Regions from separate parts of the Homo sapiens genome. Here region 2 is linked to region 1. The links come from fine-mapping of genetic effects on plasma protein levels. A gene starts in region 1. The other region holds a variant in brackets. All regions are shown on one strand. Distances are between the middles of the regions. Region 1 holds the start of GIMAP8 (GTPase, IMAP family member 8). Region 2 overlaps GIMAP8 (GTPase, IMAP family member 8).

Region 1 (5,379 bases):
GTGGGTGCCTGTAGTTCCACTCGCATGTATATATATATATATATATATATATATATATATATCTCACACACACACACACACACATATACACACATATATATACATATATACACATATATACATATATACATACATATATACATATATATACATATATACATACACACACACATATATATGCAAGTGAAGTGAGATGTCTCTGTAAATTAATTTAAGAAAAAAAGACACTAGTGAGAAAACAGCAAGCTGAAGGAAGCAGAGGCCTCCCACAGGTCTGAAGAAGAAAGAAATTTCTTTCCCAATTAAGCGACACAGCCTTGCATGGTTCCCCAGCAGAGTATGACCAAACCAATGAGTCTTGGCTGGACTCCTGCCTGCAGCTCCACATGATGTCAGGACCTACACACACACACCCACATACACACACGCACATGCACACTCCTACCACACATACAGCTTCCCAGCCAGTAGCACTTCACCCCAACATGTAGAAAGTGCACTTAAGGACAAAAAGGTACCCAAACTCACCCTCACTCACGCTCTGCCAGCCCACATTTCCCTCTGCTCAATTTCCCAGGCCACTCTGGAGACCCCAGCAGAGCAACTGAGAGAAAAAGAGAGCGTTCTTCCTATAATTCACTGAAGACTGTAAAGGCAGCCTCTGCCTCCTTCTCAGGAAACAGCCCAAGGCAAACGTGGACTCAGGCATCTGAGCACAGCATCCAGCCATGCGGGGATTCATCCCACATCTAATCGCAGTTCCCACTTACAGAGCAGGGTGGTTGGAGATGCCTCCAGAGCCCAGCGTGGGGAAGACCTTAGACCCAGCCCAGCAGGGCAACCATCAAGAGGAAGGGAAGAGGTTAACTGCTGAGGACCAGGTTGGCTGAAATGTAGGTGAAATCAGAAATATTGCTTTTGGTAAGGTCTTGACCCCTCCAATCCCTCCAATGCCCAGTTCACAGAATCCTAACTGTGCAAGGGGCAGGAAAGATCAGAAAAGCAGACGTGGAAAAATCAGCATCCCCCACCCCCTGCTTTGCGGGAGGAGCTCCGCTGGCTTCCTCCTGGGGGCTGCTCTGCGGCACCATCTAGCTTCATGGGGCATCTGACCGGCTGCTTCCGCCTGCTTCTTCCTCCCTTCTGCCAGTCTCAGCCCTCCTCCTCTTCAGGGCTCACACCCACTCCCCGACACGCCTTCTTTTAGGACAGCCACTCTCATAGATGTCTGGGAATATGCCTCTGTCCCCATCCTGCCGAATCTACTCCCCAGCAGGCTGGGGAGACACGCTTTGGACCAGGAGGAAAGCTTCCCAGGGCCCCTGCCATTCAACTCTGCCATTCAACCCTGCCATTCAACCCAGCCTCCTCTCCCATGGCTGAGCAGGCTGCCTTCCCGGTGCCAAGCCCATCCTCCCCCACAGCCATGCACCAGTGCACACACATCTACACACGAGTGCACATGTCACACATGCACTGCGGTCGTGTCCCATGGGGTCCCACGGCGTCCCACAGTCTCCGAGGCTCCGCAATCCACCTGGCTCTATCCCTCCATCTCTCACCTGGGTGGAAGCAGCTGCTGGTCCCCCAGGGCACAGGATGTGAGGAAGGTGAGGAGGGTGAGGGGAGAATGGCCGGAGAGCGACCCTCTTCCCAGGCCCTGGTCTTCCTGGCAGGAGGGTTTCGGGTGTTTCTGCAAAGGAAGAGATTTCTAGAAATAGCCTTCACATCCACAGAGGCATAAATGCAGTCGGAGAGGAAGTTCCCTGTGCAGGCCACAGGCTCAGAACCTCGAGAGCCGTCGGGGCTCAGGGAGGAGCCAGCATCGGGGACACACGCGCCTTCCCTGGGTGCTGAGCGCCTCGTGGGGTCACAACACAGCAGAAACTGAGGAGCCCGGCCCGTCCCGCAGCTGCAGACTGAGAGGAGGGAGGAGAAATGACAGCAGAGGCTTGGCCAGGGGCTGGGGCGCCGGGGCCGGTGCCAGGCTGAGCTTCAGAAGGGCTGCAAGAACAGGGGCTTGGATAGGGCAGGAAAAGGACGTCAAGCCAGTTCCTGTTCCTGAGAGGACAGAGATTGTGGCGCCGCTACAAGCTCTGAGCAAAGCCAGCTCCGGGCCTCTGTGTGCCCTTAAGTGGCCTTTAGGACTTCCTCTCACAAGTCCTTCCTCGCTTCCCTTCCCTTCCCTAAAACCCACAACCCGGGGAACTCCAAGCCTGACAGACCAACGCTGCTTCTCAGGGAATGAATGCTTTTCCCCAGCTTGCAAAACGTGAAATGCTAGACTTCGATGCTTTCAAATATTTCACAAAATGAAATCCCTTTTGTGAAAGAACATAGTGTCCAAACTACCTGGTCTCTACTTCATAAGGAAGTCAAACACGGAGGAAGACTTCTTAAAAAATGTTTACTAGGGTAAAAATGATGTAACATTAATAGTACCATCCTAACCATTTCTAAGTGTATAGCCCACAGTAGAAAGTACATTCACATGGTTGTGTGCCAGATCTGCAGGACTTTTCATCCTGCAGCACCCAAACTCTCCCCATTACACCCCAACTCACCTCCCCGAACCCCAGCCCGGGTAACCACCGTTCTACTTTCCGTTTCTATGATTTTTTTTTTTTTTTTGAGACAGAGTCTTGCTCTGTCGCCCAGGCTGGAGTGCAATGGTGTGATCTCGGCTCACTGCAACCTCCACCTCCCGAGTTCAAGCAATTCTCCTGCCCCAGCCTCCCGAGTAGCTGGGATTACAGGTTCCCGCCACCACACACGGCTAATATTTGTATTTTTAGTAGAAACGGGGTTTCACCATGTTGGCCAGGCTGGTCTTGAACTCCTGACCTCAAGTGATCCACCTGCCTCAGCCTCCCAAAGCGCTGGGATTACAGGTGTGAGCCACCACACCCGGCCTGTTTCTATGATTTTTGGCAACGTCAGATACTCATGTGAGTGGAGTCCCACAGTGTCTGCCCTCCTGAGACTGAGCAGAATGCCCTAGAGGTTCATCCAAGTGAGTGCGGGACCCTCTGCGCTCTGCACAGCAGGGCCCTCTTCACAGGATGCAGAGGCTAGGGCCTCGAGGGACTGGAGCTCAAGTTAGTTTTCCAAATGTCTGAGGTGGTGCTAAGCTTTCCAAAGGGACCCCGCAGAAGGAGGAGCAGTGGGGGTGGCTGAAGTAGAGGGGCATGCTTCAGATATGAAGTCTCTACAGTAGTCAAAACCACAGGCTTTGGGGAGCTGCTGTCAGCCTATCACATCCCGAGGGATCCACCCTCCCCCTGGACTGGTCTTCATGCGCCAGCCTTGAGGACTGCTCTACCTTGTTATGAACCTGAGGGAAACCCTGGTTATGCTGGGATGGCTCAAGAAGAGCTTTGGGGACACACAGGACACATCTTGATGGGGAAAGCTGACAAAGCCCTTCCCATGTCCCACTCTACCTGTCTCCTCATTGAAAGAGGATCTATTTTGGAAGAACCCCACCCTTCCTTTACAGTAGGTCAACGCACATAAAACCAACTCATTATAATGAAAAGACAAAAACCCGAAGCCAGGTACTGCAGTTCATCCCCGCTGGGGTACTAACAGAGGCAGAGGCTCAGCAAGAAACTGTTTCCCCAAAATAGAGAAGAAAAGGCTCACTCATTCTTAAATGAAATATTAAGCATCCAGGGATTGCTCTAAGTAAAACTGAAGCTGCAAATAACTCCTCAAAGATTCAGCAAGTCGATTATTTGCTGAGTTGACCATTTTGCAAAATGATCTTTCAGCAAATCAGCTCCTAGAGAATTGATTTCCGTGCAGAAGGCAGGCTGCCGGGTTCTGGTTTGGCACCGATCTGAGGCAGGATGGGGGCTCCCTGCCCCCTAGTGGCTTTGTGGCTAATGACAAGTGCAGCAAAATGCTCCCCAGCGGGCCGAGAGCCCTGACTCAGCAGGCAGGTGAAACACTGGGGAGAAGTTCTAGACTTCCAGAAATCGAATAAGCCAGGAAGACACATGTTATGCAAGCAAGGAGAAATCTACCAGGACCAAGCACCGTATTAGACACAGAGGGCACAAAGATTAGCAAGGCAAATACCTGACTCAAAGGGGCCCTAACTCAGTCTGAGGATGGGGAAGAGACTACGCTGTGGTCACGAAACGAGGTAATGTGCTGTGATAGAGATGCGTCCAGGCTGCCACGCAAGTGAGGAGGAGACGATGTAAACCCCGCAAGATGGAAAAACAACCAATTGGGGAAATAAACTTATAAACAAATCCGTAAACCCGCCATTTCCTGTGGCAGGTACTGACGGAGTGGTAGAGACGGAGTTTCACTATGTCCTGCCATGGAGAAGATTGTAAGGCACAGTGAAGGGAAGGCCGCGCGGGAAAGGTAATGCCTAAGTCTTGAAGGGCTGTAACATTTGCCTGTCAGATGACGGAGGGAGGACGCCTCAGGCAGACGGAGAATGGCAAACGCCACCGGCATCGGGGCCCTAAGACAGCCCAGCAGGTGCGAGAAAACGCAGTCAGGCTGGAGACAGAAGGACCGGTCAGAGGCTGCTGCAGCACCCAAGCTAGAAATGAGGAGAACTAACGCAGAGACAGCAGCAAGGGGAACAGATTTATTACAAATAGAAACAATAAGGCCGGGCCTGGTGGCTCATGCCTGTAATCCCAGCACTTCCTGGGAGGCCGAGGCCGGCGGCTCAACTGAGGTCAGGAATTCGAGACCACCCTGACCAACATGGTCAAACCCCGTCTCTACTAAAAATACAAAAAAATTAGCTGGGTGTGGTGGCACGTGCCTATAATCCCAGCTACTCAGGAGGCTGAGGCATGAGAATTGCTTGAACCCGGGAGGCGGAGGCTGCAGTGAGCCAAGATAGCGCCACTGCACTCCAGCCGGGGCAACACGAGTGAGACTGTCGCGGAAAAGAAAAGAAACAATAAAAGAATTTCTTAAAAAGATGAATTCACAGTTGTTAACACGATTGACCCAGTTGCCACATCAAAGGGAGTGCTATTCACTGCAGACATCTTTGTTATTTTGGAAAACATTATTATACGTTATTTCATTTCAAAGATGGAAAATGTGTGTGTTTACTACAGCTTTGGTAGATGGTAGTAAAGTGTCTTGTGACTAAATTTGTATATTTTGACAAGTTTTTGATGGAATTAAGTATCTTGTTCAAATGGAGTCCATGTCTGTTATAGTAATTCAGAAATAATATACTTATTTTAAAACGTTTAGCTTCTCCTGTAATTCCAGCTCTTTGGGAGGCCGAGTCGGGTGGATCATTTGAGGTCAGGAGTTCAAGAGCAGCCTGGCCAACATAGTGAAACTCCATCTCTACTAAAAATACAAAAATTAGCCAGGCATGGTGGCATG
Region 2 (5,379 bases), 18 kb before region 1:
CTTTCTTGCCTGGCTTTGCCCAATATCATTGACACCCTCAACCATCCCTCTCCCTGCATCCTCTCCATTTAGCTGTCATTATCAGATTTCTTTAACCTTACATAGCCCAGTTCAAATTATTTAGTGTTCTCTAAATTCAAAAGATTGTTATGAGGTAAATGTCCATAATATAAAAATTAATGATCTTTGCATTCCCACTCCACCAGAAAAGTAACAGTTGTTAACTGGTATATATACTTCTATCTTTTTCTATGTTCATACAAATACATACAAGCATACATGAACATATGGAGACTTATTATTTGTTCTACAATCTGCTTAATAATGCATTCTGTACATCTGTAGAAGTCAATATAGACAGAACTACATCATTCTTTAAGTAGATAGAATTTATTCCATAGTACGGACATGCGTAACTGATGCAACCATCTTTTCATTGATCAATCTTCGGTTTATTTCTGGTTTTACTGTTTCAAATGATGCTGTGCTAACTATTCTTGTACATATATCTTTAGGTATACCTTTTTTTTTTTATTTCCAGGGCATAGAGTTCTAAAAGTATGGCTCTAACTCAGTCTCTGGGCTGTTAAAGTTCTTAATGATTCCTTAATTTATTTAATCCTCAGGCATTTTCATCATCATCATAATAACAGCATTACTGAACACCTACCAAGTTTCAAGCATTTGTTAACGACTTTGTAAGCATTTCATTTAATTCTCACAGCAATTCCTGACATACATGTGATTATTATCTCTGCTTTACAGAAGACAAAACTGAGATGCTATAGTCAACAAAACAGATATGATTTCTTCTGCCCTCATGGAGTGGGTAGGTAGACAACCAGTGAAATCACTTGATGTGGTGGTGACATTGCCATGAGGAAAGGAAGCTGTGGGGCTCATTCCAAGGCCTGAGAGCCAGGATGGTCAGGGAGGACTCCCTGAGGAAGTGACTTTTAGCTGATGCAGATGGAGAAATAAAAGCAAACCTGGTACAGGGTGGGATGGGGGAGAGCAAGTGTCAGTGCAGAGAGAATCACAGGCTTGAGGCTCAGGAGTGGATGTGAGTGTAACTCAGGGGCAAACAGGAAGGCCAGCAGGACCAAGGCATAGACAGCGGAGCACAGGGCAAGGAGTCAAGCCAAATTAAGAGTTCTGAACTTTACCTTATGATCAGCAGGAAGTCACTGGAGCATGTAAAACCAGAGGGTTTCATTGTAGGAAACTTACTACACACCCATTCTTCTCTTTATTAACATCCCTGTTCCATGCAGCCCTCAAGGAAGAGACAGATTGTCACAGAGGAGGGAGCACTCAGGCTAGGAGATAAGAGAGCAAGTGTCTTCAGCCCTCTTGAGCCTCAGTTTCCTCATGTGTAGAGCATCTGTCCATAGGGTTGTCACGAGGACTTAATTAGTTTATGTCTTTGTCTGGAATTTAGTGGGCATTCAGTAAATGATTTCTCTCTTATTTCCATGCTGCTTGGGCTTATTACTCTTCCCTCTGAGCAGTCTCTCTCTGACCAGAAAGTAACAGTTGTTAACTGGTATATATCCTTCTAACTTTTTCTATGTTCATACAAATACATACAAGCATACATGAACATATGGAGACTTATTAAGTTATATGTTCTACAATCTGCTTAATAATGCATTCTGTACATCTGTAGGAGTCAATATAGATAGAACTACATCATTCTTTAAGTAGATAGAATTTATTCCATAGTACGGACATGCGTAACTGATGTTACGCATCAGGCTCAGTGTGTGCCTGCTGTACACCCTCTGGGGCTTCCCCTTGCCAAATCCTCTGTGCTAGCATCCCCCTCACACTCAGCCAGGAGTGCTTTGTTTCTTATGCATCAGCCACTCCAGTTAAAGTGTAAGCACCTCTAAGGCAAAAGACTGCATTTTTGTATCTTCCTTAGTTACAAATACATTTTCCTTTCACATCAAAAGCTTAAATAAAATCTCACCCTGGCTGTAATGTGTGAGATGGGTTGTGGGATACAGCCCAAGAATACATGAGGAGAAAATCATTACGTTAAAATAGGTTAGGCAAGAAACGATGTAGGCTTGGACCAGGTGGTGGGAGTGGGATGGAGAGAAGCAGGTGGATTCTGGGTATATTGATCCCGCAAGACCTGATGATTTCTTGGCTCTCCAAGGGGAGCTACCAGGGTAGCAGAGCTGACACTGGGGTGTGGGTACAAAGAGCATGGTGAACAGCACAGCCCTTTTCTGAAGCATGAAGGAGAAGTCTTATAGATTTAAAAGAGAAAATCAAAAATTTGGACATATTAAGTGTGAGAAAGTATAAGAGAGACAAGTGGAGACCCCAAGCAGCAATTGTGTAAAGGAGGCAGAACTCAGAGGACAGATTTGGACTAGAGTTACTACTCATTTGAAAACCGTTAGTAGTAGATGAAGCTCAATGCCATAAAAGTGTGGGATCATCTGAGAAGAGAGTACAAAGAATTGAGGAAGGCCAGAACCAAGCCCTGAGGATGTTCATTTTTAGACGTCAGAGATTAGAGAAGGACTCAGCGATCTTTGGAATAGCCAGAAAAAGAGGGAAAAATAAAACAAATGAACAAGGAGAGGGCAATTATATTGAAGTCAGGGGAAGAGAGAGTCAAACAAATCATTGTGTGTTGAAGAATATGAGGGACCAAGTAAGATAAAGGCTTAAATTTGTCCATTAATTTGCTAATAAAGCCTAAAGTCCTTAGGCTGATAATTAAAGTACCCTAAAATCTGATACCTCTTATTCCTGCAAATTATATATAAATATCTTATTAAACAAAACCCATGTTCCATCACACAATGCAATATTTCATTTATTTATACCCACTTTCATCCCACTAGTTCAGCAACATAGAGATCTTTCAAGATATTAACAAAATTCTTACTTGAAACCTGCTGCCTTCAGTTTTGAAGTTCACATGATAGGGTCCTCCGTTCGTATTCACCAAAGACTCAACCTTGCGAAGGAGCTCCAACACCTGGGTGATCTGCTCATCCTTACTATTGGTCTTGTTGTTGAAAATGCAGTATCGGCCCTCATAGTCTTGAACCAACTGCTTGAGAGGTTTGTTTTTTTCAATGAAATCTTGCAGCAAGTCATCCCCCAAATCATCCTTCCGAGTGAAGACAATAATGATGTGCCTCCTGGCTTCAGCTCCAAACACTTGTTGGATGCCCTTGGCTGTTTCCTCATCCT[C/T]CCTTGTGAAATGGCCGATGGCAATTACCAAGAGCAGAGCATGGAGGCTGGGAGCAGAGAGCTCCAAGCAGTGTTGGATGTTGCGTTGCTTGTCTTCAGCACAAGCTATTGAGGAGAAAAGGTCAGGGGTGTCAATTACCACAACCTTCCTTTCTCTCAGGACCCAACTCTCTCTCTGGCACATTTTGATCACTGTCTGATCACTGAACTTGGACTTGAACACATGTTTGCCCAGAATGGCATTTCCTGTGGCACTTTTTCCCGAGCGGCATTTTCCCAGGAGGAGGAGCCGCAGTTCGGACATCTGGCAGCTCTGCTCTGACATGCTTTCCTGACACAGGCTCCCGCTTGTTCTGTTGGGACAGAAAACAACACATTAATGTTCAACTCCCACACAGAGTGGACAGGAAAACAGCAAGAAAAGACATTCTCTTTTTGACTCAAATTGCCGCCAATGAATTTGAGCTACTGAAGTTCTAGACCCAGACTAGATTAGAACAAGAAACACTTTCCCAGGATCTTCCTGTTCCCTCATCTCTGAGACAAACCTAGAGATCTCTTTTAGTTCCTTAAATTTTTTTTTTTTTTACCATTAGGAACCACAAGAAGTCAGATATGTTAGAAACCATACTAAATAAGCATGTTTCAAAGTTGAAGGAAATCTCATAATTAATAGTAATGGTCAGATGTTTAAAAAATACAGATCTCTGGGACCCAACCTACACCTATTAAATCAGAATCTCAAAGGAAAGATCCTAGAAATCTGTATTCATCAAATGTCACAGTAATTCTAATGAGTAGCCAAGTTTGGGAAGCATTGCCCTATAAAATGCAATGAAATGTCTAGAGCATACAAGCAAATATAATATATGGTATACATGATACTCTGAAAATAATATCACAGAAGACAAACTAGAAAACTTCATTTGTGGGACTCGTGATGCACCCAGTGCCAGGTGAAGTTAACAGAGAAGCATGATGTGGTGGGTATGACCATGGTCTTGGACTCTGACCTGGTTCACCTTCTGCTCTGCACGCATTAGCTGAGATCTGTAGAGGCCACTTAACCATTCTGAGTCTCAGTGTCCTAATCCATAAGATAGAAGCGGTATTACCTACTTCAAGGATATTTTTATAAAACTCAAATGAGATGACAAATGAGAAAGTACCTTGCAAGTTTCCACATATTACCTAAATGCAAAGTGGTACGATTTCAGTATATAGATAGTGCTGCTTGGATTTAATATTCTCCCTGCAAAGGCTTCCACCTGCCAGGCAAGTCAAACCCAAAACTCTTGAGCTAATGTGCCAAGCTCTTTGCAATCTGTTTCCAGCCCACAGAGTCAGCTCTACTTGTAGCCACTCTCCTCAACACACTGTATGCTCCAGCCAAGTGAACTACTCATCTGTATTTATTTATTCAGGCCCCACCTTGTTTGACATATGTTTTGAGCTGATTTGCTGTACCTGTTCAGTCATCCTGCCTTGTACAATTTCTTCTGGATTGCCCAAGAGACCCTGACCTGAAATCAAGTGAGGCCTGGAAATTCATGGCAAAACTGTCGCTGCGAGGAAAAAAACTCCCCTCTACCATAATCACAGGTTTTCCCTTTAGGGTACATCAGCAAGTAGCTGTGATTCCCACACAGGGTTACACCAGGGATCCTGTGTTCCTCTCTTTAAAAACTTAGTTTCCAAGACTGCAAAGCTGGCCATGATGCCCTCACCTGGGAAGGTTTACCTATGCAGATCTACAAGAGAGTGGCTCTCCCTATGAAAGCTTCGTACAGCACCCTCTTGGATGGCCACCCCTCCATGGTCCATGGTGAAGTCAGAAAGTTATTCATGTTATTTCACACCCTTTCTAGTGTCTCTGCCCCTTGATGGGTTCCCTTCCTGTTCTCACCAAGCCTGCTCCAGCATCCTTTTTGTCACTTGTATGAAAAGACTGAACAACAACAAATAAAAGGCATAGATGCAGCAAGCAGATAAGAATGTGACACACATGAGGACAATGTTGTGGGAGTCCAGGGAGGAGTCAGTCACTGGGACAGATTGGTACCACTCCATCAAAACTGCTCCAGCAGAGGGCAAAGATCCCTTAGCTGCCAATTCACAATGTGCTTACACTCATTATCTGATCACTCTGTGCCATAA

The links. PIP is the posterior inclusion probability: the model's chance that the variant is causal. The UK Biobank Pharma Proteomics Project read protein levels with antibody pairs (Olink). The fine-mapping took linkage between variants from a reference panel, not from the people measured, so its PIPs are less certain.
Region 2: its variant is fine-mapped to the plasma level of the GIMAP8 protein (UK Biobank, PIP above 0.99). The variant lies in the coding sequence of GIMAP8. If it changes the protein, the assay may bind it differently, which can mimic a change of level.

What each region holds. Positions count from the first base shown.
Region 1 is chr7:150,447,359-150,452,737 of GRCh38, reverse strand. It overlaps GIMAP8 (GTPase, IMAP family member 8), which reads right to left and starts at 2,108. Exons shown (of 5, transcript NM_175571.4): 1 at 1,563-2,108. LINC00996 (long intergenic non-protein coding RNA 996) reads right to left here. Exons shown (of 4, transcript NR_034033.1): 4 at 4,598-5,379.
Region 2 is chr7:150,464,867-150,470,245 of GRCh38, reverse strand. GIMAP8 (GTPase, IMAP family member 8) reads right to left here. Exons shown (of 5, transcript NM_175571.4): 2 at 2,912-3,575. The coding sequence starts at 3,547. Among named protein-coding and RNA genes, the nearest start is that of GIMAP8, 17 kb to the right of the region's middle. The variant C/T (reference allele first, on the strand shown) is at 3,223.